Linked DNA regions of Homo sapiens. The protein of the gene in region 1 purifies or fractionates together with the protein of each later gene. This does not show direct contact. Each region holds a gene or a part of one and is shown in the gene's direction. Other genes may lie near its edges.

What was found. Proteins that work in one complex are often made in the same cells at the same time.
Region 2: the proteins of SLC38A1 (region 1) and DHCR24 purify together in Homo sapiens (affinity purification with mass spectrometry; one large-scale study listed by BioGRID and IntAct). This does not show direct contact.

The regions. Positions count from the first base shown.
Region 1 is NC_000012.12:46,205,701-46,211,300, reverse strand, and holds part of SLC38A1 (sodium-coupled neutral amino acid symporter 1), read left to right. Parts: intron 1-2,173; coding exon 2,174-2,247; intron 2,248-3,679; coding exon 3,680-3,772; intron 3,773-4,064; coding exon 4,065-4,146; intron 4,147-5,138; coding exon 5,139-5,221; intron 5,222-5,600. UniProt on the Homo sapiens protein: Symporter that cotransports short-chain neutral amino acids and sodium ions from the extraccellular to the intracellular side of the cell membrane. The transport is elctrogenic, pH dependent and driven by the Na(+) electrochemical gradient.
Region 2 is NC_000001.11:54,849,196-54,852,695, reverse strand, and holds the end of DHCR24 (delta(24)-sterol reductase precursor), read left to right. Parts: intron 1-309; coding exon 310-463; 3' UTR 464-3,069; downstream 3,070-3,500. UniProt on the Homo sapiens protein: Catalyzes the reduction of the delta-24 double bond of sterol intermediates during cholesterol biosynthesis.

The DNA.
Region 1 (5,600 bases):
CAACAGGGCACATAGTCATTCCAGAATAGCATCTGGCTCATCCTAAGATGTCACTCATTTTACTCCACTAGGAAGCCTGTGCTCTTCTGTGCCACACGGAAATCCTCTAGGGCCTGTCACATGTTCGTGTAGAAGTGGCTACTTAGCATTGTGTCCCTCAAAACAAGTGAACTCTGCAAGAAACCGAAAGCTTGCTTCTTTGACATAAATATTGCTTATCTTACTTGACGGGAAAAAAAATCATGCCACAATTAGGTCCCATATCTTATTCTGTGGCAGAGCATATCAAATCCTGTTCCATTACGTATCTCAGAACTACTGGGTTGGCTAATAAATGCTTGCTGTCCGTTTCTCACATCCCTCAACCTGAAGAGATAAGAGACCTACCCTCTTAATCAGTGTATTAGTCCATTTTCATGCTCCTGATAAAGACATTCCTGAGACTGGGTAATTTATAAAGAAAAAGAGGTTTAACAGACTCACAGTTCCACGTGGCTGGGGAGGCCTCACAATTATGGCGGAAGGCGAACAACACATTTTACTTGCCCGCAGACAAGAGAGAATTGAGAGACAAGTGAAAGGGGTTTCCCCTTATAAAAAAACCATCAGATCTTATGAGACTTATTCACTACCACAAGAACAGTATGAGAGAACTGCCCCCATGATTCAATTATCTCCCACCGGGTCCCTCCCAAAACACGTGGAAATTATGGGAGTTACAATTCAAGGTGAGATTTCGGTGGGGACACAGCCAAACCATATCAATCAGCCTCCTCACTCAAGGATTTTAGGGAAATAAGTATAGATCTGAATGTACTTCCTTACCAATCATATCTTAACCTAAATTCCTGTTTATTGGCAGATCAGTTGGGCCTCTACCCAAAGTGTTAGGTCTGTTCTTTCTCCTAGTGTTTGTTTTGCCTCTGCTGAGCTCTGCCCCTCTTTTGTTTGCTGGCCAGTTTCTGGCAGTTCATCTGTTCTGCTGTTGACCATTCTGTACTCCTGGTTTATCTCCTCATGGTTGCCCCGTATGCAGGAGAAACAAAACACTGTAGGATCATAGACAGCTGAGGAGCAGTCATTCTGCCTGGGGCCAGGGAAGGCAACTGAGGAGTTGGCATCTGAGCTGGGGCCTAGAGCAGCCTTCAACAGGTGTGCTGGGAGGGGGAAGGGCCAGGAGGAAGCAGCCCACGCAGAGCGAACGGCATGATGTGCCAAGTGCCTCTCAACAGCACTTGGTGGAAAAATAATTGCCTTTCATGACTCAAACATAGAGTCAATTGCAGTTATGTATTGTTCTAGGGATATATTTTCCCACATCAGGAAGTGAGCGGTTTCATCTGGGGACTGGATTTTTTTTCTTCTTTTTTAATAAATAGGCTTTATTTTCAATTATCATGTCTGTTTTAACCAAATGTTTCAGAAATCATCTATATAATCTCCCACATCATTTTAACTGCACTTTTTCTTGAGAAGGGTGTGATAATGACCCAGATGTACTAAAACAAAAACATGAGTTCATCATTCAAAAAAGTCTTTTCATTATACTTGATTGTCAAATTTTCCCACTGGTTACCAAGTGGTGCTTATTCATCTAAGAGGAACCAGGTGCAAAAAAAGTGAATTACATTAGTAGCCCAATATATAGATTTTAAAATAGCCATGAAGTAATAGATGAAAAGAACCCTAGACATCATTTGGCTTGTATCTTTATATTATGGGCAAGGAATCCAGAGATGGGAATGTTAAGCAAGTTGCCCAAAGTCAGGTGGTCATTCTCCTAAGGTCACTGCCAGCCTTTCCCTCCGCCCCTCCCACCCCATTCTCACACTTTCTCACCCGGATGTAACAGAGAGTGCAACATAGACTACAAAAGCCTTCTTTCATAATGTTGTTTTAAAGTCATCTCAACCGAAATGCTCCCAGAGAGCTATTTGGGCTTCGAATTACATAAAGGATTTGAACTGTTACTCAGATTCTAATGAGCACTTCTTTATTTGGTAGGACATTTTTGTTGAGGATTTTAAAGCAGGGATGACTAATAGGTTCCAAAATTTGGATACTATTAACAAATAGTGTTAACCATACAAATAAACCTTTGCCCTTCTAAACTGTAATGCCAGAATATATTCTTTTCTAGATATTACAATAAGATTTATTTTCTTTGCTTTAGGGTACTTTTGACTTCAGTGACATTGCTGTCTATATATTCAATAAACCTCCTATTGATCTGTTCAAAAGAAACAGGTAAGCTGAGGACGTGTTTGATTTTGTTAAAACCAGGGTGAATTATTTTTATGGTAGCATTGTGGAACAATGATGTTCTCTCTGTACAGCAATTTGATTATTAAAAAGAAAGACTATTTTGACCTAGAGTGATTGGAAGACCTATAGTAGTATTTATCTAGAGAAACAGTTGCAGCAAAATATAAATTAAATTGTCATGGACAATGAGAAAATAATGTTGTCACTTAAAGTGAACCCTCAATTATACCTGTTTTTCTGGTTTAAAATGACTTCATTTTAAAAGCTTGTTTTTCCTTAGGTCTTTATAAATCCAGAACAAAGATCCCATGTTTTTATATTATAACTTCCAAGGTTTTAAAAGTAAACAGACCTGTCATTCTCTTGTGCATATTCCAAGGAGAAAGTGTTACTCCTGAGGCAATGTGGGAGTGAGCAAGCTATGAAGAGACTTCAAGTACTCTGGGCAGTGTAATACCTGAAGTGTTTATTTTCTATTTCTGGGACACTGGATTATGTTTGTAATTCTTTGACTTTTACATTAACTAAAACCACATTGGTCAACTATTATTGTATATACATGACTCCATTTAACTGGAACATTTTATAATAAATTGAGGAGCTAACCATTGTCTAGTTTAAACACCAGTCTTATGAGAGATTAAACAAAGGTTTAATTATAGCCTGTCCCATATTGCTCTCCGTGAACCTTTTGAAAACATGAACTGAACAGTTATAAAGAAATATAAACACTTTTTAAAAAGTGAATGCTTTAGAGTTTCAGTATTTATTGAGATGAGCTAGTCGAACACTTTCAAATTTTGCTACAGACAAATTATGCTTTTGACAGATTAGTCTTCTGCTCTCTTTTGTGAGTTGCATGTATTTGAACTACATTTTATGAATAATTAGGTTTTGTATGTCGTGGCTATTAAAATGTTTCTAAGCTTGTTATTACATTTAGAACGTGGAGGCATTGATGGGATGTTATTAAGATAATTCCTTGTTTGCCTAATCAGTTCAGGTCATTAATTCAAAAGGAATCTTTTTGTTTCAACTATTAGGATCTTTTTAAATCAAATATGTATTTTAATGGTGTACACCAGACCTGAAGAAAAAGATCACAGAAGGAATTTCCCCTTTGTAAGATAGAGGTAGTTAAAAATAAGCCTTATGACCTAATAGGTTAATTGTAATGCTCTGGTAGCCAACTTGAAAAAGGAGAAATGATGGTTGCATCTCACATTTTAAAATGTTAAGAATTTGTTTTGTAATGAGGATACCTTAACCCCTGAAGGCCAAAATGACTATTTGTGTGAGTTTGAGAAAGGCACATAGTAACTTGGGGAACAGTCAATAGAATGACAAAATCTTGACTATTTTAACTTTCTGAACCCTGTCATTTCTTGTGTTCTCAAATTTGATTTTTAAATAGGCTGCATGGTGTATGAAAAGCTGGGGGAACAAGTCTTTGGCACCACAGGGAAGTTCGTAATCTTTGGAGCCACCTCTCTACAGAACACTGGAGGTAAAAAGAACATGCTTTTCTTTACATAACTTGAAACTAATTCTGGTGGATGAGCGGCCACATGAATTTTAACATAATTCAAGCAGTTATCATCCTCATTGCTAAAATGGCACAGGGAAAGTAAAGCAGAGACAGCAGTCACTTATTTAAAGCCACAAATCCTGCTAGAGTAGCTGAAGTTGCCTTTGTGTCTTACTGACAGTTGGTCTAAGAACGGGCTGATAACTTTTTATGTAGCTTGCAACATAAGCCTTCGTATCTTCTTTCTAAAAATGTTCTCATTTTCCTTCAGCAATGCTGAGCTACCTCTTCATCGTAAAAAATGAACTACCCTCTGCCATAAAGTTTCTAATGGGAAAGGAAGAGACATTTTCGTAAGTTATAGACCATTTTTTTATGATATAACTAAAATGTTTTTAATTTAAATATGGGCCAATCAAAATTCTTGCTTGTGAATATTGCAGAAAGTTTTTCCTAGGCTGCGTTTTGTTTGTTTGTTGTTTCAACAATAAATTTCTTTGGGGCTATATAAAGGAAAAAAGCAGGAGAGCCATTTGCATATGCACATTTGAAAAGTAGATTTGTCTGTCATGCTATGAGCGGTAGATACTGCATTTTCCCCAGAGCCTGAAATCTATATCTAGTTTCTGTGAAATAGAACAGATATGCAGTATTTTTAACACAAAAGTGGAACGTGCAACAAAAATTAAGACCCTAGCCTCTTACTTAAAGAAGGGACATAGCATTTTGGGGGCGAAATTTACATGAGCCAACCTCATTAAAGATGTAGATAACCCTGGAAAATGTTGCAGCTACATTTGGCACAATTGTGTTTTGACTCCCTCTTGTTTAACAGTTCTTGTCAGTCTTAGTTTCTCTGTTTTCTTTCAAGGGAGAATCGTAGAAGCCAGAGTCTCTAGTGTTCTCAGGATTCAAGGTCAAATCCAAGGGATCAGGGAGAGAGAAATGTCTACCTGTAGTGACTTGTTTCTCACTGATACTAGCCCAGCAAAACAAAAAGGAGCTTTCTCTTTAAATAATTGATAGGACAAGTTGTAATCTGACAGAATGAAATGTGTGCATTCAGCTTTGAAACCATGTAAATAATTCAAAAGAATGCCACATTTAGCCAATGGGAAAAAAAAAAACCAATATTCCCTCTTCCATTACAGGGGAGTGAAGCTGTAGTATATAAGTAGGGGCTGGGTTAAAGTGTTTGGATAAGACCTGAATAATGATTTTAAAAATTAATGCATATAGTAAAAATTAATAAAAATATATATCATGATATCATGAAATTTTACATTGGAGGGGAAAAAAGTCACTTTCTAAAAAAATATAACCTAATCACTTAAATGCCTTTCAGAGCCTGGTACGTGGATGGCCGCGTTCTGGTGGTGATAGTTACCTTTGGCATAATTCTCCCTCTGTGTCTCTTGAAGAACTTAGGTAAGGACAGATTTTGCTTTTATCATATTCTGCAGTGCCCAAGTGAATCAGAAACTGAATAAAAATGGACAGTGTTGCCCTCTGCTTCCCCTCTGCATGCACTCAAAGATTAAGTACATGATAAATTGCAAGTATTAATCGGTCCCAACTTTAATATGGGATAAAAATAACAGTCAGTATGTGACCTCCTAAACAATCCCTCTACTGAGCTGTGGAGGGGAGAAGGGAGGTCCTGGGGCCAGGACAGACAGGGCTATTTTCAGTAGTACAACTTATATGCTACTCTAAGAAAAGTCCAGAAAATGCAATTCTCTTCATACGAAGTCTTAAATACCCTCATTATTTAGATAAATACATTTTCAAATCTAATATGGAGACA
Region 2 (3,500 bases), on another chromosome or scaffold:
CAACCCCACTGCTCCATTAGGGAAGGCAGCTGTGCCTCTGGCCAAGCAGAGGGGCAGAAGCCCAGCAGTCTGAGCTCTACTCCTGACTCTACCTCCACTGCTAAGCTACCTAACCCCCAAGCCCCAATTCCCTACCTGCAAAAGGGGGATAAGAATACCTGCACCATCTTCTTCACCAGGTTAACGGGGTTAAACAAGAGAAATCCTCCAAAAGCCTTTTCTGGGCTGCAGAATGAGCAGTTGGGTTTCTCTCACGCCTCGCGTTCCGTGTGCCTCCTGGCGTCCTCACCCACTTCTCTGCCTCTGCAGCTTCCAGATGCTGTATGCCGACTGCTACATGAACCGGGAGGAGTTCTGGGAGATGTTTGATGGCTCCTTGTACCACAAGCTGCGAGAGAAGCTGGGTTGCCAGGACGCCTTCCCCGAGGTGTACGACAAGATCTGCAAGGCCGCCAGGCACTGAGCTGGAGCCCGCCTGGAGAGACAGACACGTGTGAGTGGTCAGGCATCTTCCCTTCACTCAAGCTTGGCTGCTTTCCTAGATCCACACTTTCAAAGAGAAACCCCTCCAGAACTCCCACCCTGACAGCCCAACACCACCTTCCTCCTGGCTTCCAGGGGGCAGCCCAGTGGAATGGAAAGAATGTGGGATTTGGAGTCAGACAAGCCTGAGTCCAGTTCCCCGTTTAGAACTCATTAGCTGTGTGACTCTGGGTGAGTCCCTTAACCCCTCTGAGCCCGGGTCTCTTCATTAGTTGAAAGGGATAGTAATACCTACTTGCAGGTTGTTGTCATCTGAGTTGAGCACTGGTCACATTGAAGGTGCTGGGTAAGTGGTAGCTCTTGTTGCTTCCCGTTCAGCGTCACATCTGCAGTGGAGCCTGAAAAGGCTCCACATTAGGTCACCTGTGCACAGCCATGGCTGGAATGATGAAGGGGATACGCTGGAGTTGCCCTGCCATCGCCTCCATCAGCCAGACGAGGTCCTCACAGGAGAAGGACAGCTCTTCCCCACCCTGGGATCTCAGGAGGGCAGCCACGGAGTGGGGAGGCCCCAGATGCGCTGTGCCAAAGCCAGGTCCGAGGCCAAAGTTCTCCCTGCCATCCTTGGTGCCGTCCTGCCCCTTCCTCCTTCATGCCTGGGCCTGCAGGCCCACCCCAGCCACCACTGAGTCCACTCGGAGTGCCCTGTGTTCCTGGAGAAGGCATTCCAGGGTTGAATCTTGTCCCAGCCTCAGCCTGGGACACCTAGGTGGAGAGAGTGGTCTCCGCTCTGAATTGGATCCAGGGGACCTGGGCTCATTCTTCTTGGCTCACCAACCCTGCAGGCCTCATCTTTCCCAAAACCCACTTTGTCTTGGTGGGAGTGGGTCCGCGCTGCTCTGCAGCAGGGGCTGGGGAGTGGACAGCATCAGGTGGGAAAGTGGAGTCCACCCTCATGTTTCTGTAGGATTCTCACCGTGGGGCTGGAAGAAAAGAGCATCGACTTGATTTCTCCAACCACTCATCCCTCTTTTTCTTTCTTCCACCACTCCCCACCCCAGCTGTAGTTAATTTCAGTGCCTTACAAATCCTAAGCTCAGAGAAAGTTCCATTTCCGTTCCAGAGGGAAGGGAACCTCCCTAGGTCCTTCCCTGGCTTGTTATAACGCAAAGCTTGGTTGTTTATGCAACTCTATCTTAAGAACTGCCCAGCCTCAGCTGAAAACCCGAATCTGAGAAGGAATTGCGTCATGTAAGGGAAGCTGGAATTAAGGGAGCTGAGCCAGTCATGGTTGTGGCGTGTGAGTCAGGAGACCTAGGTTTCAGCCCCTCTCTACTGTCAGCGAGCTGTGCAACGTGGGCAAGTCATTGTCCTCTGAGCTGCAGTTTCCTCATCTGTCACATCGCTACAGACAAGACCTCCCTGGAACCCTTCTGATTGTCTTAGACACTGTGGTTGCAAAACCCACGGAAAGCCTCATTTGTGTGGAAAGTCAGAGGAAAAATGATCCAGTGGACACTTGGGGATTATCTGTCATTCAAGATCCTTCCTTCAACCCCAAGGTCAGCTCCCATCTCATTTCCAGAAAGGCTCATACCTGGCTTGCAGGGAAGCATCTGTCTTGTCATTCCAGGTGCCAGAATCCTCTCAGAGTCATTGAAGGGTGTTCACCCATCCCACCCAAGGCTTGGCACACTGCCAGTGTCTTAGCAGGGTCTTGTGAGGGCTGGGGGCATCCAGGCACTCAGAAGGCAAAGGAACCACCCTACCCATTTGGCCTCTGGAGGGGGCAGAAGAAAGAAATAAACCTCATCCTATATTTTACAAAGCATGTGAATTCTGGCATTAGCTCTCATAGGAGACCCATGTGCTTCCTTGCTCAGTGCAAAACTGATGATTCTACTTGCTGTAGATGAATGGTTAACACGAGCTAGTTAAACAGTGCCATTGTTTTGCCAGTGAAGCCTCCAACCCTAAGCCACTGGGACGGTGGCCAGAGATGCCAGCAGCCTCTGTCGCCCTTAGTCATATAACCAAAATCCAGACCTTATCCACAACCCGGGGCTTGGAAAGGAAGGTATTTTGGAATCACACCCTCCGGTTATGTTGCTCCAGTAAAATCTTGCCTGGAAAGAGGCAGTCTTCTTAGCATGGTGAGCTGAGTTCATGGCTTTTTTTTGTAGCCAGTCCTGTCCCTGGCCATCCATGTGATGGTTTTGGATGGAGTTAAACTTGATGCCAGTGGGCAGTGCATGTGGAAAGTATCAGAGTAAGGCTCTCCCCTCCAGAGCCCTGAGTTTCTTGGCTGCATGAAGGTTTTCTTTAGAATCAGAATTGTAGCCAGTTTCTTTGGCCAGAAGGATGAATACTTGGATATTACTGAAAGGGAGGGGTGGAGATGGGTGTGGCAGTGTATGGTGTGTGATTTTTATTTTCTTCTTTGGTCATGGGGGCCAAGGAGAAAGGCATGAATCTTCCCTGTCAGGCTCTTACAGCCACAGGCACTGTGTCTACTGTCTGGAAGACATGTCCCCATGGCTGTGGGGCCGCTGCTTCTGTTTAAATAAAAGTGGCCTGGAAGCTGGCGTTTGTCGTTTCTTGCTTGGGGGACCAAAATGTGGAGTCAGATCTGGGCTCGGGTGCAGGCTGTGCCATTCCCCAACTCAGTTGCTCTCACTGAACCCATGAGCCCATGGCCGAGGGCTAGAAGAACATGCAGGAACTGACAGGTTTATTTCTATCACTGTCAGAGTGTGATTGGAGTAAGTGTTGAAAGGATCCCTCTGTGTGCAGGGTGGCAAGCAGACCAGTGAGAAGGCCACCACTGCAGTCCAGGTGAGACGATGGTGGCTCTGGTTAGGGTGGAGGCCTGGCTTTGTCACTTGGTTGTGACCAATTAATTTTAGCAAGTTAATCCTGTTGAGACTGTTGTCCTCATCTACAAACTAGTGGACCCACTAGCTGTCCATTAAAATGCATTCCTCCATTCTTTGGACACATAGCTAGACTACCTTTCC